3 separate regions of the Homo sapiens genome follow, and regions 1 and 2 are each linked to region 3. The links come from fine-mapping of genetic effects on gene expression. A gene starts in region 3. Each other region holds a variant in brackets. All regions are shown on one strand. Distances are between the middles of the regions.

The links.
Region 1: its variant is fine-mapped to the expression of LINC02268 in nucleus accumbens (GTEx, PIP above 0.99). The same link has a PIP of 0.9 or more in prefrontal cortex.
Region 2: its variant is fine-mapped to the expression of LINC02268 in cerebral cortex (GTEx, PIP above 0.99). The same link has a PIP of 0.9 or more in anterior cingulate cortex and caudate.

Annotation. Positions count from the first base shown.
Region 1 is chr4:174,102,471-174,109,313 of GRCh38, reverse strand. The region is part of intron 2 of LINC02268 (long intergenic non-protein coding RNA 2268); the gene reads left to right. Among named protein-coding and RNA genes, the nearest start is that of LINC02268, 110 kb to the left of the region's middle. The variant A/GCA (reference allele first, on the strand shown) is at 3,375.
Region 2 is chr4:174,115,438-174,122,280 of GRCh38, reverse strand. It overlaps LINC02268 (long intergenic non-protein coding RNA 2268), which reads left to right. Exons shown (of 5, transcript NR_125896.1): 2 at 2,195-2,384. Among named protein-coding and RNA genes, the nearest start is that of LINC02268, 100 kb to the left of the region's middle. The variant A/C (reference allele first, on the strand shown) is at 3,331.
Region 3 is chr4:174,216,265-174,223,107 of GRCh38, reverse strand. It overlaps LINC02268 (long intergenic non-protein coding RNA 2268), which reads left to right and starts at 2,710. Exons shown (of 5, transcript NR_125896.1): 1 at 2,710-2,794.

The DNA.
Region 1 (6,843 bases), 110 kb after region 3:
CCCTTTAAACTGAAAAGAGAACACTTAGCCAGCAGCATACATTTACAATAGGCTTTGGTTGGAGTGAATTACTCTAATTTGGGGCAGGAATTAAAAAGATTAAGTGAAAAGCAAAATAATGGAGAATAAAACAACTTGATATACTTTAATAAAATGGTAGTTTTTAACTATGAATATACAGTTGTAAATCAAGTATTAATATTAAAAAGGGGGGCAATTCCATATCAAAATGCAATTGGCTATGCATGTGGAGACTTTCTTAAAGAGAGTGTCAGATTCAATTGCATTATTTTCCAGTGGTGGAAGATAGCGGTTGATAAAAAGGTATAAATTGACAGGTAATTTTATTCAGAAGTAAACTTATGCTTCTATCAAATTTAAATTGCTTAGCAACAACCAGAATAATTTCGACTGATAAGGTTATTGTCTTTTCTTCTGCTGGTATGTTGCTGTCTCTCATATTTCAGTGATAATTCTCCAGTTCACGGCTGTACGTGTGGATGATCAAAGAGAAGCATTTTAGCTCATGTATGGTACAGCTTCCTTTAAAAGTTTGCTCCAGCATTGTCCAAGCCCTCTTTGGTGACCTAAATACCCTCCTAGGCTAGATTACTCATTTCCATGGCTTCAGCTACTATCTGTCCTACCTAAGTTTTCCAAACTATATTTCTAGATCACTTATGTCCCCCAAGCTCTAGCCCCTCTTCCTGCTTGAATGCCTTATAGGCGTCCCAAATTAAACTTCTGTTCTTCAACCCCTCCTTTCTTACTTGGAACCCTGTATTGGTTCATGGCCTTAGCACCCACCTACTTGCTCCGGTGAAATCTATGAGTTGTCCTTGTTCTTTCCCTTTCCTTCCGTTTCCAGTGTAATCCATCACAAATTCTTCAGATTTTATATTACTAAATAACTGCTACACATCACCCCAGTCCAGGTCACTGCCTTCTCTCACCTAGACTAGGGCAACAGCCTCCTGATCTTACAACAGCAGCATAAGGATGAGATGCTGCTGGCAACAACGAGGTAGGGGTGATTGCAGGCTCCTTTGAGTTTTTCCCGAGTATGCAGATCACCCCAGCAGGAGCTCTTCACCCTAATAGCAGTGGGCTCCAGCCTCCCTGCAAAACCCAAAACAGCCTCACTGTGTCCCCACAGATACCATCAGGATCTGTTGGCCAGAGTCCCTTGCTCCGAGGTCTAGGTTCCAGCTCTGGTCCCTCCTCCAAGCTTCTAGGTTCTAGTAACCCTATTCTCTTCTCCTTGTACTCCTAGCCTTAGGGATTCCTGTTTCTTGAAGTTATAGTCTTTTGTTGTCTCATGCCTATGAAGCAATTCTCAATTCTCTTTGTTAGACTTACCAATGTGGTTTTCCTGTTTCTTACAGACTTTGGCCGATAACACCCTCACGGCTCCAGACAGATAGGATTTTTAAATTCCTCAGACTCTTTATCGTTCTGCTTCTTGAGTTTCCCACACTCAGTTCCTTCTGCTAGAAATGTTTTCTGTTCCTGTTCTCCTTTCAGCTCTCTCACCCCTTAACTCACAGCTTTTGCCTAGGCAACCCCTTTTGGAATGCCACTTCCTCAGGGAGACCTCGCCGACCCTCTAGACCAGGTTGAATCTCCACTCATCCTTCCTCCTCCTCTGAAACCAATCACACCACTTTCTTGCCTGATGTCCGTCTTCTCTCCTGATTTAAGCAACAAGAGGGCAGAGAACATATTTTGTTCCTACCCAGTACCAATTTCTATGCCAAACATATTGTAGGCAATCAATGTTGATTATTGATTAAACTTAGTTTCTTATAAGCAGAAAAATATTGGGTAAAGTTTTTCAGCTAAGGATATAATTTTAGATTTTTTTCCCTTCTCATTTTAGCAATTCCAGGTATATGGGCAAAGAAATGTGAGACTTTTTTTTTTTTTTGTCTTGTAGGGACTTTATTTCACTCATAATCTCCGTCAGGGCCCCCTCCAACTCCTGGTACCAAGTTACTCTAAATAAATATATCCTGTAAGCAAAAACTCTGCAAATACTGTATCAAGGAAAATTCCCTAGTTTTCTTTCCACCTAAAAGATGACCCCTATGCCTCTCCTTTGGAAACATTCTGGAACTGCCACTGCTTTTGCTTTTGGACTTTAATTTCCCACTTGGCTGTTGTTTCTGTTACGTGCTATTTCCAAAATTCTAGCTCATACACTTTTTCTAGAGTCCTACAAGCATGAAGAAGTACTATTAATTCAGTTGAAGCATTTCTTTTTTGTTCATTACCTCACAAGATGACTTTTGCAGTTAAAGGTCCCAGTAATTTCTTTAAAATTTACAAAATTGTTATAATATTGCTATATTAATGAGAATAGCCAAGAAAATATTGTGTATCTCAAAGAAAGTGATTTTATGACTGTGGACAGAAGTGTTTTCACAAAAAAACTAGAAAATGAAATCATTTTGTTTGGAGCAGCTCTTCCCTTGTCTTGCCCCCCATTGCTCCCCAGTAGCTGCGGTCAGCCCAAGCCCATCACTGCCTCATGCCGTGAAGACTGCCCTCCCAGGTGGTAGGAGTTTCCCATCCTCACCTAAATCAGTTACCTGTTCTTTGCTCCACCTTCTCTCAGAAAAATGAAATGGAAAAACTAATACAGATTAATAAATTAGTGGCTACTGAGGGCTAAGGAAATCAATTTCAGGTAAAATATGCATCTAAAATGGAATTTTCTAATCTCATCATATCTAAATTGTGCCTTTTGAATGGTTTGTATTTCTTTCAATAGCAGATAGCAGATATTTAACACCTCTGCTTTATTATTGTTTTGTAACAGACTGCAGAGGTTTAGCAGTACTTCCAAATATCTTGTATTTGATGGTGATCAAATACTGTATAGCTTCAGAGTCCCATATTTCATGTGCATTGCCTTAACTCAAAGGACAAACTCCAACTGTGTGTTGTAGATATTTGGGGGCTGAGGTAGCCTTGGAGCTAATGCTAGTATTTGCTTACTTCACCTTTGAATAAAATCTTCCAAGAGAAAGAATCTTGAGTAATTACTCACACGTATTCGCAATGAGGTTCCCACCTGAGTCTTCGCCTTTCTGGTTAGGCAGAAGGGAGTATGTTTTCATGATACTGTCACTTACTGATCTGCTACTATGTGCCAGGTGATGTTCAAATAGTCTCTCATATAATCCTGATAGTACTGCCATCTCTAATTTATCTTTGAGGAAATTGAAGATTAGACTGATTGAATAACTTCCCAAAGTTACATGGTTAGTGTAGCCGCTTGACTGGAATTTCGATTCAGACCCTCTTTGAGGCCACCTTCCTGGCCCTCTTGGTCCTTCTGCTTTGTCACTGTCTCTTCACTTTTTAGAGGC[A/GCA]CAGTTTTATTCACAACTAAATATATTACTTATTTTAATGTATCTTTTAGCTTAGCTTTTTGATAGGACTCAAGATCACTTAATGGAATTCTGGCCAAACTCTGGTCTGTACATCCAAGTATCTGTTGCTTACATTCTTAAAGATGGGGCTTTGGGAATTTTATAGGCCTTGGCATTTTATAGTATAAATAAATTTTGCTCTGAATGGCTTCAGCGAGAATAAGCAGACTATTTGCCTGCTACCTCTATTCTGATCACTGTAATCTGTTTTGGAAACAAAGAAACAGAAAGCCCTTAAGCCTATGTAGCATGTCAACCCATGTAAACTACCCTTTATTGTTCTTCAGTGATGTGTAAATACACATTGAGGTAAGAAGTTCATAATGTTAACAAATTAAGTTTCAAAAGCATTTGTCAAATTTAGGACTTATTAAGTGGTATAGTCTTAGTCTTAGATGAAGTTAAACAAAATTCTTTTCTGGTAACTCCAGTAATCTTTTACCTGGACAGGAATTTAGATTCATGAAGCTGTAACAAAATGTTCAGTACTCAAGTTCCCAGTAAACTTTGAACAAGAGGCAGTGAAGTGCCGTAGCTGGTTCACACTGGCTCACAAGAACAGATTATTAAATAGTCAGGTATTTTGTGATCTGGTTGTTAAAGACAGCCAATAATGAAAATTGGAGTGGTTAAACTTACAATTAAATAAATTATACCAAAAGGAAAGGTAATAATCAAAATTCACTAGTTTCTAATTAACTTACATCATAATATTATCTGTGCTCTTGAGATTATTTATAATTATTGTGTCCGTCTGGTGGAAATACTATATAATGCTGTGCTATTGCATATCTCTTCCAAACTCCGTGTTCAGGGATTTTGGTAGCTTAAATTCTGTCATTGTGGGAGTACTTAAACCATGGAAATCAGCAAACACTAAGAATCAAGCCTTTAATATTTATTTATTTATTTTTGGTAGTCTAGACTTGAGGAAGCTATGGAAGAAATGTTAAGAACACAGATCAAACCTAAAAGGATGTGGATGTTGTAGCTGTAGCTGCTACCTTGTGAATAGCACACAATTTGATGACATATCCTTCCAGTACTGTTTTTGCAAACTATTATCTGATTCAGCAAAGGAACACATCCCTGATACATGAATAAAGTTCCAACATACTTTGACGTGTTTACTTTCACCTTGCTTGTTAAGGTAAATGGAATATTAGCCAACATTCACGTTGATACCGCATTCATTAATTGTAAAAAGATTGATTATGGATTTAAGAATCTGGCAAAAATAAACAAAAGCCTTCTGTGAGAATAAATTGGCTATATAAAATGTAAAATAGTTTTAGGTATTTCATTATTACTTATAATTTGTATACTATACATTGTGTATATTAGTAAAATTTATAAGAAATAATAAACACAGGTATATTATATATATATATATATATATAATATATACATATATACATATTTATTTATTTCCCTTTTGGAAAGCCTGGCGTTAAGCCTGGCACACGCACCAGCACACCATTGACAGAAGCCAAGCCTTATTTTGATTCCAATTTATTCTCTGTGAATTGTAAAGTCACTGCCTGCCTTTAGAGGGCTGAGGCTTGTCCTTGCCACTGTTAATTAATGTGTTCATATAATTAGCTGAAGAAATACAAGTGCTATAGAGACTATGGGTAGAATCTCTCATGGCATACTTAAAAGTCTTCTGAGTGTTAATGGATGATTTGCCCAGAATGAACAAACACCTACCTCATTCTACAAATTTTTGGAAAACTTCCTCCCTTTTGGAAAACATGTAGTATGGGCTGTCTATGACATCCAAGAGAGTTTCATATTTCAGTTGAATTTTGTTTCCCTCTGGATATAGTTAGTGAGTTAAAAAAATAAGTGAAATTTTTCGAAAGACTTACTTTGAAAAGCCTTAGAAGTTTTTGTTATCGCGGTCAATGCTGAAAATCTTGAGCAATAGAGTCTAGAAGGGAAGTTTTACCTTTTATTTTAAGAACGTGAAGTTCCTGTCTTTCTTTTTTATTTCTTCTCTCTTCTCTTGTAGCTTCTGTCTCTTTTTCTTGTATTTCAGTCTTTCCATTCTTTGGAGATTTTAATTGAGAACAGAGGCATAGATAATCCAGAGATACAGGAGAATTCGTGGAAAGTTAGAAAAAATCGGGCAGAGAACAAAGTATAACTGTAAACATTTTATTGTTTTAGATATTTAGTGTAATGGGGAATTCTAAAATAACATCTGAGTCATTATCTTCGAAATATTTCTAACTTATTTCTGTACTGAAAACCATTATTACTTTGAAGATTGTAGGTAACATGAAACAGTAGGAGTTATTTCTAACACTAATCAATGACTGATGAGAAGGCTCCATCCTGTTCAAGATTTCACCTTCCACAGGTTCCTATGGTGATTCACCCAAGATTAATGAGGCATTTTCCACAGAAACTGTTAGACTATGTTTTCGCAAATTTCTGAGATAGGTTGTGTGTGGCGGTGGGGTGCAGGAGGGTGCGCACCCCTGTCTGTCTCAGAATGTTTATGCACAAACATTCACAATAACTATCTTGAGAAGCCTCACAAGAATCTGATTTTCTTTCTGGCTATTTGTGAAATGTTTTGTTACATCGTAAGGTGTGAGGAAACTTTTAACGACAGAGAAGCTAGGTGCTCATCATATGGCCAGCAACAAACCCCCCTTTTGTTTATTTGGCTTTATGAATCTAAATACTTATGATTGTCTCAAGACTCGAGTAATCAAATAACAGTCTTCATTTTCTCTCATTGATAAAATTATCCAGCAGATCTAAAGAGATCATCTAAAGCGATAAAAAATACTGTTATTATGCAATTGAACCACCTAGACTAATAGGATGTTTGGTGTGTGAAATCTAACAGCAAAATAGATTTAAATTAAAATGAAGTTTCTCACTACTATAATATTCAGGAAATTTTCTAATATTACGCTAGAAAAAGTTCCTGCTATGAGAATATTTCTGAATATGAAATCTCTTTTTTTAAAAAAATTCCTGTACCTTAAGTTCTAAGAGCAATATTAATCTTTGCTGGAAATTATTTTCATTTTATTTGGAATAATTTTTTCAATACATATTCTCTTTTTGCTTTCTATGAAATAAATCTATTACCTGAAAGTTTGGTACATTTCAAGTTGAGGCATGAAACTGAGATTAATTTCTCTTAAGAAGCCTTTGCCCCCACCCCCACTGCCCAGTTTTGTTGCTCTAATTAATGATAAAAAAAAACAAGTTTCCCATGTTTTCATTGATGTAGATTACATACTTGCTTATTTTTAAATTATTCTACCTATAAACTTTGCTGGCTTGAGATCTGTGACATATGATCTTAACTCATCCTTTTATCTTCTAACCAGGATGGAAAAGTTTTTCTTTTGCTCCTTATAACAGTGGTGGTAAATCCAAAATA
Region 2 (6,843 bases), 100 kb after region 3:
GAGAAGGAAATACTAATTTTACCCCAAGCATAATTTCATCTGTGACACACTGTGTTGTCAACAGTGAAGATGCAATCTGGGTAGAGAATATAACCTTAAGACAGTCTTCTTAGAGCAAATAAACATGTTCTTGCATTAACCACTTATTCTCTTTGGAGAGCTAATTACTCTTCCCTCAGCTGGCTGGGGCTGAGGGTGAGGGGCAAGGCTTTGCTGCAGAGAAAGTCAAATATCTGACTAAAAAGACTTTTCATCTATGTATCTGATACTTTTTAAACAATTTGCATCAGCTAAGTGTTATGGGTTTTCCATCACATTTGGAATAATGAAAATATTATGGCTGGGCACGGTGGCTTACACCTGTAATCCCAGCACTTTTGGAGGCCGAGGTGGGTGGATCACGAGGTCAGGAGTTCGAGACCAGCCTGGCCAACATGGTGAAACCCAGTCTCCACTAAAAATACAAAAAATTAGCCGGGCGTGGTGGTGGGCACCTGTAATTCCAGCCACTCGGGAGGCTGAGGCAGGGGAATCACTTGAAGCCAGGAGGCAGAGGTGGAAGTGAGCCAAGACTGCACCATTGCACTCCAGCCTAGGCAACAGTGTGAGACTCCATCTCAAAAAGTAAATAAATAAATACATAAAATAAAATAAATAAAAAAGAAAATCTTATATTTTAAGAAAATTTTATTTCTTTTTGAATTAAAACAAAATGTTCACACTTTAGTCGCTAAGTTACAAGGACAGATTAGTTAGTAGGAGATTATGTATTCTGGATAGCCCAGATTAATTGTTGCTTTTAATGCCCTTTCTAAATCTGATTCACAGATGTATATCATTATGGATGTATATTATTAGTGAGAGTGGGAGAAAGGGGCAATTATACTTCACAATGTCTGAAAAATATTGCTACATAATTCCAAACTATTTCTTTTTCTCTTGGAGGAATACTTTACTTGATTTCAAAGGGGAATTTGTGGACATTCACGTAAGTTAGAAAAATACATCACAAATATGCACCACTGCAGTTCACAGAAGTTAAGAATTGTAATCTAGGGACTCTCAGCAGCAGACATCCAATAATGCAAAGCAGTAATAAAGAAAGGCTTGCAATGAAGCACGGACTCTGTAAAATGTGACTGGAATGAGGCTGAAAGTGTAGAAGGCATGTTGTGTCATCCGGCGTTTAATCAGTGAAGATGGTGGCCTGACTTTGTCACAAGGAACTGCATTAGATAAGAGTACCCTGATTATGTGGTCTATTGCATACTTTGAAACATGGAATTGAAGAGCTAAGAGTTCATCTATTCTGGCCCTTTATGGAGGAAACTGAGCTCCAGGGTGGTTAAGTGACCTGGTCGAAAGAGAAGGAAAGATATCCTGCTTCTGACTTCAGGGCTCTTTAAAGTTCATCATATTTCTTAATGCCATTGGTGGATGAAAAATTAAAACATAGACCTGGTATTTACATTTTAACTACTGTGTAGTTTGCCAAATCAAGATTCCACTATGTTAATGAATTCATCTGATTTTCTAAAGAAAGGCAAAGTCGCTTTGTCGAGTTAAAAGGAATCAACTTAATTTCCGCCACTAGGTGGCATGATGCATTTTTTTTCCCCCTCTGGACACTTTTTGAAAAGGAATCTATCCCTCTCCCTACACCACACACACACACGCACGCACGCACACACACGCACGCACGCGCACACACACACGCGCACACACACGCACACGCCCGCGCACACACTCTCTCACACACACACAGAGATTGGAGAGAGACAGGAGAGAGACATGTTTTCATCTATCCTTTGTGGACTTCTGTTGTTTTTACTGCTGTGAAATTTGACTTGCGATATCTGCTTGTAAAACATCATCAAATCCAAATTCATTATATTCCACTTTTTCTATTACATGGTTTCTGCTTCACTGATTCATATCTGTTTTACCTATTCTGTAAGGGAGGAGAAGCTGCGTTAGGTTTCATCTCTTGTTTAAGTTCAGTTTAATAAATAGTAGATAATGCCTCTTCTCTTTTTTCCTTTTGAAGAGGAGAAAAAGGAAAGAATTGTAGTTGATTCTTATGTAGCAACTTATTCATTCATTCAGTAGCTATAGAAGCGAATTGTTTTGTAGGTAATTATTAACGATGCTTTGGATAATTCCCTAGCTAACTATTCCTTCTTTTCCATCCCAGAAAGCAATGAAGAGAAAAGCTGAAGTCAGTGATTAGGAGTGTCTGTGTAAGTAAAAGCAACAGGCAATTACTGAGTGTGGTGTGAGAGGCACGGAAAGATTGGGAATTCAGCAAGAAGAGGAATTGAAGTCAAACCTCACCTACTTCCCAGAGTCTTCTGGATTTTCTGTTAGAAGCTTCAGTATCTGAGGTAAGGAAAAGAAACTGCAGGACTTACAGAATATACCCTTTCCTTTCCATCCTCTGTATTACTTAATAGGTATTTTGCTTTGTTTTCATTTTTTCATTCCTCCTCTTATCTTCTGCCTTAATTTTCAACTCCATATTACTAAGTGGCATGGTTTTCAAGTTTTCTGTACAGTGTTTTACTATTTTAAATAAAAAAAAATTTTTAGTTTTAAATTGATTTATTTTTCTTTTAAAATTTTAGATTCAGGGGCTACACATGCAGGTTTCTGACATTGAACCCATCACCCAAATAGTGAACATAGTACCCAAAGGAAGTTTTGCAACCCTTGCCCTCTTCCTCCCTCCACACTTTTGAAGTCCCCAGAGTCTACTAAGAAACATCTTTTAGAAAGTAAACAAGCAAATACTTTTGTGGAAGAGCCAGACACTTCAAATGAATTTTGTTCTCAATCCCATCAACATGGGTTTTTAAAAACACTAATACACAGAATCACTCCTGACCAATGGATTCATCATCTCTGGGGCTGAAGGAGGGGCAATTGTATCTTTTCAAAGATCTCCAAAATATCTTGATGTACCCTGAGAATGGAGACTTTCTGAAATGCAGCAATATGCCATGTGTCATTTTTTTCCCTTTAACCAGCATCCTGGTCTTGCGCCATTTTCCTAGTGACTCATGCTTGAAACACAGCCATCTTGGTTCTCCCCTCTGTTGTTCTTGTGTGTAGTTAGTTCCTAAGTTCCGCGTCTTTCATCTCACTAATGTTTTATATCTTTCCACTTTGTCACATCGCCATTACCATCACCCCAATTCAAAGTTTCCCACCTTTCTCTTTTCAACACAGATGTATTTGACTTCTTTTTCCGATGTTTAAATTTACAATTTTTGTTACACTTTGGAATCGCAAAATAACAAGAGAAAAAACATTAGGAGAGGAGAAAGTGAT[A/C]TTATCATGAATAATAAAACTCTTGTTTCATGTGTAGCACAAATGAAAATCACCCCCAAATCTTTTTCTTCAAAAGGAAGGAAAATCAGCATCTGAGAGGGTTGAAAAATAAGTTCATTTTTTTCCCTTGCAAAGTTACTGAATTGCCACCTACTGGTTTTACTATAAGAGTAAGAGCTATATATCTCTTGTTCATCATTGTATCCCTGGGAAAAGCAAAATGTCTTGTTTTATTAATTAAAATTTTATTAGTTGCAAGTAACAGGAGCCATCCTGACATAGCTTATACAAAACAGGTAATGTATAGTTAAGCTATAGAGCACAGTGGTAGAATTCAGGCTGGTCTAAGGAAATAATTGCAGACAGGCCATGGAGAGGCTTCAGGGTTTTACGTTTTGGGGGTGCTTATTTTATTTTTCCTCTTTGCTCTATACTTTTTTGGGCTTCTTAGGTCAATGTGGCATTACATAGCTGCCAATGCTTTCAAGTAGGTAGAGTACAATTTCAGTCATGAGCTAGGATGAACTAGCTATTTCCTAGCAACTTGCCTGGGGACCGGATCTAACTGGCCCAGCTTGAGTGAGATAATGTACTCTGGTCAAGTCAGCCACAAGCTTAGGCACTGAGACTATTGTCGAAGGTCACCCCTTACGAATGGGGAGTTAATGTGAGCTGGGAAGATATCCCAAAGGTGTCTAATGCACTGACAAATGGCAAAGATGCAACAGATATTTTGGATAAATAAATGAATAAAATAATAAATGAATGAACCAAGAGACTGTTAGTTTTGGGTAGCATAATAAACTCAGATTGACAGATAAAGAGCAATTCATTAGGCATCTACTTATTACCAGAGGCTGTAAGGAATAAAAGCTGAAAAAAAAGAGGAGTTCCTGACTTTAAGGAACTTGTCAGAAGAGGTATCATTAACAAATAAGGAGAATATAGGCAGTGACAAGAAAAACACAAAATATTATGTATATTCTGTCAACTGAGAGATCATAATTTTACTTACATTAGTTAAGATATTGTCAGCTGCTGAGGAACTGAGAAATCTCAGTGGATAAACACAGTATAATATTTTATGCTATGTAAAGTTCAATAGGACGGAGGGCTGGGTTTGGGGTTTGGGGTGAACAGGAGGGCAGGATCTACCGCATGGAGCCATCAGGAACCCCAGAACTACCACCTCCAGCACGGACTTCCGCCACGATCATACTGCCAATCAAATGCAGCCAGCACAGTGAAAGGAAATACCCATACAGAGGGTATAACTACTTCTGCGGACAGCCCATTGGTCAGTCTACTTTCACATGGCCATACCTTACTAAAAAAGAAAGCCGGGGACTGTAATCTTGCCGCATCCAGGGAGAAAGGCAGTAGTGTTTTGGGAATTGCTAGCCAGTGACCACTATAGCAGCATTGTAGTTATGGCAGAGTGGGTGGGGGAGGAATAATTTTTAAAAAATTATGGAAGAAATGCTATAGTTAGACCATCTTTGAGGTGTAGGTCTTAACTGTTGGAAAGAGAACAGCAATTTTTGAAAGAAAAAAGTAATGTAGGCAAAGATCTGGAGTTGGGGAATAACTATGTTTTAGGAGTGTTGAATATGAAATAGCTGTCTTGAAAGTATGATAAGAACTGAAAAGGTAGTTATCTTTATTTGGCTATTTCTTTTGAACATATCTTTCTATTAACTTCAGCACATCAGTTTATTTTTCCAGGAAGTGGATTTTGGTTAAAAATTATGCTGATAAATAGTGAGGAGAAACAAAAGTTTGGAGGAAAAGTAATAAAAACTTGATATAAGTATCTATACTATTTCTTGTCTTCCTATTCTGACCTTCTGCATTCTAAATTGAAACAACCACTCTAATTTTCTTTGTAAAATATCAAGTTGGCTTGAAAATTGTGTGTAACAGCAATACAAATGTAGTTTTCAAAAGCGGGGTTTAAATCAATAAATATTAATATATTTTTATTTTTATTCCCTGCATCTCTTCTTTCTTAAATCAAATATATTCAGACTAATGTATTCATATGTTAATATTATTTTTTTCTGGGATGGCATTAATTTCAACTAAATATCTTAAGAGAGTAATGGGAGGGTTTTTTCCTTCTTGTTCAGAATTTCTTTTAAATCCGACATCTGGTATTTGGCACTTGACTTTTACTAGACCAATTGAGCACTTTTAAAGGGGAATAAATCATATGACTTTCATTTTAATTTTTACTGTAATGGTTTAATGCAGCCAACATATGCTGAGTAATAGTATTAAAATAAAATCAGTAAATGAGGGATTAAAATTTGCCTGAGTTCAGTTTTGCAAAGACACTAATTAGAGAAAGGTTTTTCAGATCAGAATTGGATAAGCCAGCAATTTTTTAAAATTGTAATAATATACTGAGAAATATTTGGGTTTGAGCATGCTGTTATTGAGAAGGAAAAATTACAAGGGAAATTAACACCTTTGCTCTAATGCGAGGCTGTGGGGTGAATCTGGGAACCCTTGCATGCCCGTTTCTCCACTGCCAGAAAGTATCCAGACAAACACTGAAGACCAATCCACATTTGCTTATTTTAAACAGAGATACTAACTTGAAAACTGGAAATATTTGAGTTGGACTAAGCAGGATGGAGATTTCTTGACATCATAAGGAGCATTCATTTAAATTTCTCATTTCAGAAACTTGAATACTAGAAAGGCTTTCTATCCCACGCCTTACTTTTTGGCAGCCAGCCAGTTATTTTCTATGGTTCTAGTTATTGGGGTACGAAACAGTTTGCAGAATTAAGTTAGAATTTTATTTATAGCTTTGAAACGTCTAGCTAAATGTTCCTAAATATGGTACTTCTTGGTAAACAAATAAAAGCGAAATTATTTCTACATCAAAATTGAGCAAGGAGAAAATTAATGGGCAGTATTTAGCAGTTTCTTTAAATTTCCTTCAGTTATGAATAGCATAAATAAGAAAATTAAATGGGTTAGTCTTACTACAGAGACCTTAATTCTAAATACTTTGGGTTCATATATATGACCAATTTAATTAAAGGAGGTTTTGACCAGCAACCTAAAACATGCCATATCATACTATAAGAAATGGGTTTTCTGACTTGTTAGATAATCTGGAAAGGTGTTGTTCTGATTAAAAGGATAAAAGGCTTTTCTGTTCTGTGAGGTATAAAAAGGAATTCTTTCAATATCATGAATAGAACCACTCATGTCACGTTCACTTAGTGGTTTTCAATAAATAAGGAACATGATTGGTTGCACTTTGCTATTTTTAGACATTCACTGTAGTATAATTTCTTTATATTACAGAAATCCAGAACAGGATAAATCAAATCACCGGTTCAGTGTGCTAAATTAGCATATTCAGCTCTTGAAGAATTTATGGAAAACGGCTTTCAAAATGCAAGCATGTCTTTGTTCTCTTATATTTCTTCAAACCAGTCTCTCATTCATTTCCAAATATCTAACATTTCAGATTCATTTTTGCTTTCATTTTTT
Region 3 (6,843 bases):
TGAGAAAAATATCACAATTCTTTTCCAAAGAAGAGGTCTGATTAAATGAAATAATTTTATTTCTTTGCTATAAATGTGAGATCTCACTTAAGTAGTCTCTGAAAATAAAATATATTCATAATTGCATGTATGTACATATGGGCATATGTGTTTGACTACTTATCAGCATGGATGTTATTGTAAGATGTTAGTGTTTTGGACACTAACCCCCCACATCAGCAAATCAAAGTGTGATATCTAAATTGATCTAGGTAAATTTGAATAAAATTGAACCAACGCTTTGTGGTCCTTCTGCAAAGCCAGATGTTCAGACCCTTAGGCAGATTTCATAATCCACACATCTGGGGGCACAGAGAAATATAGGGAGGAAAAGAGAAAAATCTCTTAAGGTAAGCTGGGGGATCTTGTAGATGGGCCACTAGGGAACACAGCTGGCTCTCTTCTTGAAGAGATGAGCCCCAAGCAAAGAATGCTTTGTAAAACTGAACACAGAGTGAATCCTGACCGTTAGCTATTAACTGTAGAGCTCAAAAAGAGACTTTACAAATATCATTACAAACAAAATATGGTGGAAATTTTCATAGAAAGCCACATTCTTTGTACCAAATTTTGCTCTGCAATAGGCAGTCACTTTTGCACACCTTGCCACCTAGTGGATAACCTGAAACCTACAGGATTTTTCCCCTTAATTTCCATGCTCTGCGGAAAAGTTCCCCAACTCTACCAAGGGAAGGTTATTTTGTTTGTTTTAGTCATTGGTGCTCCGAGAATTGTAGTAAACAGTCAACAAATAGTTGTTACATTAATAATAAACATTAAGTTGAGGCATACTTCATTTAAAAACTATTGTTATGGGGAATGTAATGGAAAAGATAGACAATATGATGTTGGCAAAATGTGTTTCCTAACTGAAATGAAAGTTTTGAATTATTTCAAAAGCAAATGCTGGGGGATCTATAGTTTCCTGTTAGAGATGTATCTACATAGCACATCAGGAAGAGGAGCCGGGCGCGGTGGCTCAGGCCTCTAATCTCTGCATTTTGGGAGGCCAAGGCAGGCGGATCACTTGAAGTCAGGAGTTCAAGACCAGCCTGGCCAAAATGGTGAAACCCCTGTCTCTACTAGAAACACCAAAATTAGCTGGTGTGGTGGTGGGCACCTTTAATCCCAGCTACTCAGAAGGCTGAGGCAGGAGAATCTCTTGAATCCGTGAAGTGGAGGCTGCAGTGAGCCGAGATCATGCCACTGCACTCCAGCCCGGGCAACTCCAGTCTGGTCAACAGAGTGAGACTCTGTCTCCAAACAAACAAACAAAAAACAAAACAAAAGCAAACAACAACAAAAAGAGATGTCATTATTGCTCTGTGTAGACAAATCATCCAGATAATTTAATTTAGCCATTGAGAGCCTACCCTTCTTTCTTCCAAGATATCCCAAATAAAACTAACTGTAAAAGCAAATATCCTTGCTCCTTTGTCTAGACACCATTGCTACTTTCATTCTTGCTTTGGGCTGTGATGCTTGCTACTCCCTTTTTCTGCTGTCCCAAATTATGAAGCCCTTTTATTCATTTAAAAAGAATACCTATGCATATGTATAAATATATATATATATTTTTCCTTTTTCTAAATAACATTTTATTCATTTTGACCATGTGACTCATTCGTATGGTCAATGAGCCCAAGGTGTTGATGACTCTTAAACATGTTTCTCCTAGCATAAATATTGGTGGCAAAAAGCAGAATAATGATCATAGTTTTGAAATAGAGAATACCATTAATGTCTTTGATTTTTGAAAATGATATTTTAAAAAACAAACATGACTATGTCGTGATACCTTAAAATTCAGGCTGAAAACAATTTATTAGGTAATCCACTTCAGGTTTCTTTTGCAGGAGGATTATTTTCCATTTTCTTATGGATTATTTTCCATTTTCTTGCTAAAATCAGCAAAACATATATACATATAACAATATACCACTAGTTCATTAAAAGAACTTATTCTTTTTGTTCTCAAATCAAGCTCATTTTAGATTGACAATATCTTAATGCATTTTAGGAATATATTGTCAAGATTAAAATCTTACTTTTTATTAGCTGAAGTTGTATATATTCATTATATAAAACTGACTTATGTTGCATAGAATTAAAACCCTCCCCAGAGTTCATAGTTTTAAACAAATATGCATACATATCCAAATACATATTAAATCCAAAGCAAACAATAACTTTATGTTGACAGTGAAAAATGCAACCTTACATACATAGTCTACAAAACAACTGAAAAATTTTAAATGCCAGATATGAGGAAGCCAAAGAATTTTAACAATGAGAAATATGTTATGAATTAAAATATTCAATCTTGAAAACCTTTAAAAGTGAAAGTTGCACTGTAACTGCTTTCTAAGGTAATTTTTGCCACTTTTAGGAAAAAAGATGTTTACGTAACATTTTTAAAAGTACAATCATTTCTTACATAGCTTTATGATTGAGGATAACATTAGTATGCACATACAACATAACACACAAAAGCAAAGCTTAGAATAACATTTTAATTATGTTTTAGTGTATGTGAAATAATTTGTTTTTCTCAATTATATTCCTGGGTCAAGGCCTAAAACATTTATTTGAACCAGCTATATATCTTATTTTCATAAGGGTCTCAGGAGGCAGTAGTCATATGTTGTTACTTCAGCCCTCCACAAAGGCAATACAGTACAGATCTCTGTACTGTAAACGACAACAAGGACCAGTCACAATTTCAGTTCTTGTTACATTGATAAGACTCCTTCAGGTAAGAGATTAAAACATGCCTTTATTATTATAAGGTTAGTGACCATTTTAATGGAATAAAAAGATTATTCCTGTTGCATTGGAGATAGGAAATTTGGGATGTGAATGTATGAGGTAGGTGTCTTTTCTCTCTTGTGCCTGTATTGTTCAAAAGCTCTTTGACATTAGAAAAAGGTTAGCTCTATAATCTTAATATTAATATTTAGTATAAAATCTATGGAGAACACACATTATACAGGGAGCCAAAAAGTTCAACTCTTTTTTTAATGGAGAGAAGGTAAGTAGGTGATCTTCACAGACTAAGAGGTTTTGCCTTTTAACACCAACAACATAATACTATTTATATTTGCTCTATCATTGTGATTAACCTACCTTCCCCTTCCAAAAAAACACACTTAGCTTACTCACCTAACAGTAATGACATATATCATTTTAAAAACAAAGAATAGTTTCAAAATTAATTTTTTCTACCTAATGTGCGTGACTGATGTTGAAAAGTTAGTGAGGGTTACCCATATATTCACACATGTAAATTGTGGAAATAAGAGAGAGAGAAAAAACTCAACAGATATAATCTGTAAAGCTGTCAAAAGACTTTCAAATAGCGAATTCCTTCAGATCATATATTTCAATAGAAGTTGCTGTTTAAATAGAGGTCTCTCATTTGGTGGGAGGAGCTTTTAAAAGAAAAAATACTTGAAGATAAGTAATATTACCTTTGCCATTTGTTATGAAATAAATATATCATGAGGAGTTATGCTTCATTAAAATGTAATACTTATAGATGACAGTTTCATATGGTCAGATATAAAATGTATATATGTTTTACCAGGAAGATTATACAGTATTTTTAATCTTGATTTTTCATGACTTCTTGCAAATATGCATTTATTGCTTTCCAAACCATGCCTGGGAATGAAGGAGAAAAAATTGTTTTATCCGAAGAGTTAGCTGTTCTTCCTTGGTTCAATCAGGAGTAAGTTCTGATATCATAGAGGGGAATGTATTAAGATAATTCCTAAAATATAACTGTGCTTTTACTGTTTTGCCTATGCTGCCAGAAAGTTAAAAACATTTTGTTTCAAATAACTGTGTATGTTTAAAAGTCAAACCTATTATTTGCTATATTATTTGTCATGTGCTATAATTTGACAGAGGGGCAATATTTCTCCAAAAAGTAAAATTTTATAACCAAAGGCCATCAATTGTACAAACGACTAAGAGAATTAAATTTTATTAAGTTGGAAATGTAATTTATTCATTGTAACTGTTTTAAGAGAAATTAAGTGAGCACTTTGTATGTAGTTATCTTAAATGTTACGTGTATTCTTTTAGAAACTCTTTCTTGTTTTCCTTCTTTTCACCTTCAGTGTCCTGGCACGCGACTAGCACAAATCAAACCTTATCTGTCATAATAAACTATAGCGTTGGAAATTCTAAAGAGACTAAAAATTACTTAACGTCTTTAACATATTTGAAGTAATATTTATGAATAAGGGAGGGCTGTCCATTTTTGAGTTTCGTCGCGCCAATGGTTGAGGGATTTTCTCATTATCATCTCCTGATTCCCAGAGAAGAAAGCCAGCCGCGTGGCCTTAGGACCCCTGGCCACCGGGAGTGGAGGAGCGGAGGGTCTGCCCCAGCTACCCCTGTGGCCACCGCCTCTCCCTCCAGGTGTGTGTGGGGAGGGGGCTGACAGAAGCAGGAGGCGACTTGCTGAAGTAGGGAGGCCAGACTGAATTTTTCCAGGATTCCGGGACCTTATCTCTAGGAAGCACTTAAGGACTTACTATCGCATTCTTTATCTCACTGTCTTCCGACTGCCAGGCTGGGTGCCCAAACTTTGGCGGCTTTTTCACAGTTTCAACGGCAAGGGTGGGAGTGGGGCTCGGGAGCTGGAGAGGAATGGCACGTTACGCCCCGTTCGGTTTCAAGGCCATGATTGCATCGCTCTCTGGAACGAAGATGGCCAGGAATTCGGGCAGGGAGAGGAACCACTCAATGGCAAAGTTGGTAGTAACGTCGTGAATTGTAAAGAGGGATAGCCCTCTCCTGCAGTCTCCAAGCAAAACCTTTTTCGCAACATGGGTGCCTGTCCAGCTTAATTCTTTGCTATCTTTCTTACTCGTGTTTTTGTTAGGGGACCGTTATAAAGTGAATTTTTGAACTGCTGGGTTGAGAAATAAACAGGGAAGGAACTGGGAAGATTCAAATTAGCTTCCACCGACCCTATTAGAGGTCCCTGGGCAGGAACCCCCCTGGCCACAAAATGTCCCGCAGGAGGTCTGCCTGGCGGAGGCGCTGCCTGGCGGAGGCGTGGGCTCAACCGAGTGGGCGCTACCACCGCTGGCTTCGGAGAAGCAGCCTGCGGAGAGCGGTAAACCGCAAGGGAAGCGCTTCAGGATCTGATTGCTTTTTAATAAAAAGATATGTTTGTAACCAGATGGAACCATTCTGGCTCCTTTATCGAGAGCGCAGCTTGGCCGCTTGCCTGGCCCTGGGGCTCTGGCCACAGCCTCTGCTGGGTTCTGGAGGAATTCAGATCTAAAAATAAATGATCGGGGATAATTCTTCCCCGAGGCGAACGGCTCGAACTCCCCTCCTCCACCCGCCACTGTCACAGCAATTCACCTTGAACTCTAAGGCGGATCGTTCCCACCTCCGCTCAAGGGGCCTGGACGCGGCGGTGGCTTTGCAGCCTCCTGCACCCGGAGCTCTGCTGGGCATGCTGCAGCCAGGACCCGCACCAGACTGCTCCAGGCGCCCTTAGGGTCCTGCCGGCTGGGTGGAAGTCAACACACTTTCAGTTAACCGAGGGGATTGAAATTGGATCCAATGAGGGAGGAAAAGCTGAAATCCCTGCTCTCTGGAGCTGTAGAGCACCAGGTGGGGAGACATTGCAGGTCAGAGGATAAGTCCTCTGCATTAACTGCGGCGCAGTTCCCTGTACGTCTAGCAAACTAGGTTTATGGTCTACGTGGGTCACAAGCGCATAAATCATTGTCAGCCCCGACAGTAGGTGCAGAGCTCTCTGCCTCGCTCTGGCCACACCAGCCTTTAGACAGGCTAACTGAGGGGGGGGCTCGGCGCGAAATTTCCCAGCCTAGAATATTTGCCTCGAATCTTTCTGTCCAAGTCTCCGAGACAGCTCCAGAATATGCGCTTGCCCTTTTGATAGACCCGCAAAGGGCGCGGTCTGGCAACCAAGCGCATCTGTTCACTATGGCCTAATGATTGTCCTGCAGTCAAAGAATCCAAGAGGGCATCATCTGATCTTATTTTATGCGTGAGGAAACCTGACGCTATCCAGGTTAAAGTGACATTGCACGAGGTCACACAAAGCTCTGGTAAAACTCCTTGATCCTAGGTTTCTTGATTCTCGCTCTCACACCTGGCCCCATCCATCGTCCTGCCTCAAATATCCACTGTGTTGTAGAGATACCAGGATCTGAGAATGCCTGTAGAGAAGGACTCATTATTTGTTGTCTTTGCAATTTACTAGTACAATTTTCAATATGATAATTTCCAAAGTCCCAGGAATGTACTTCAGATCTTCTTCCTCATTCTACCTCACAATTCACATAGGAGGAACCCCAGTGGCAGCCAGATATCGGGGTTTTAGACACCCAGCTGCTTCAGCCACTGAGCCCTGGGTTACCAGCACTTAAACAAGTCAAGAAAAGGAATTCCTCGCTGAGCCGGGAGGACTGGGAGAGATGGGGGCTCGGACTTAGAGAAACGCTGGAGAGAGACGAGTGGTCAGGCAATCAACTTTCACCTTCTCACAAGCTATTAGTAAAGGGACTGTTTTTTGTCCAGCAAACTCTCCCCTCAGGCATGCAGGGCTTGATGTTATCGTGATTACTTTTCGCTATTCACATTAATTATTTTAAGACAACACACACACACACACACACACACACACCTTCTCACTTAGAGTCAATGCCAACTTGAGCCATTTCAAATCGTTAGTCCTCTTTGTGAATGTGTTTGCATTTTTAAATCTGGGTTAGAAATTTGGCAGTCCCTCAATTATTCCTGAAGTGAAAA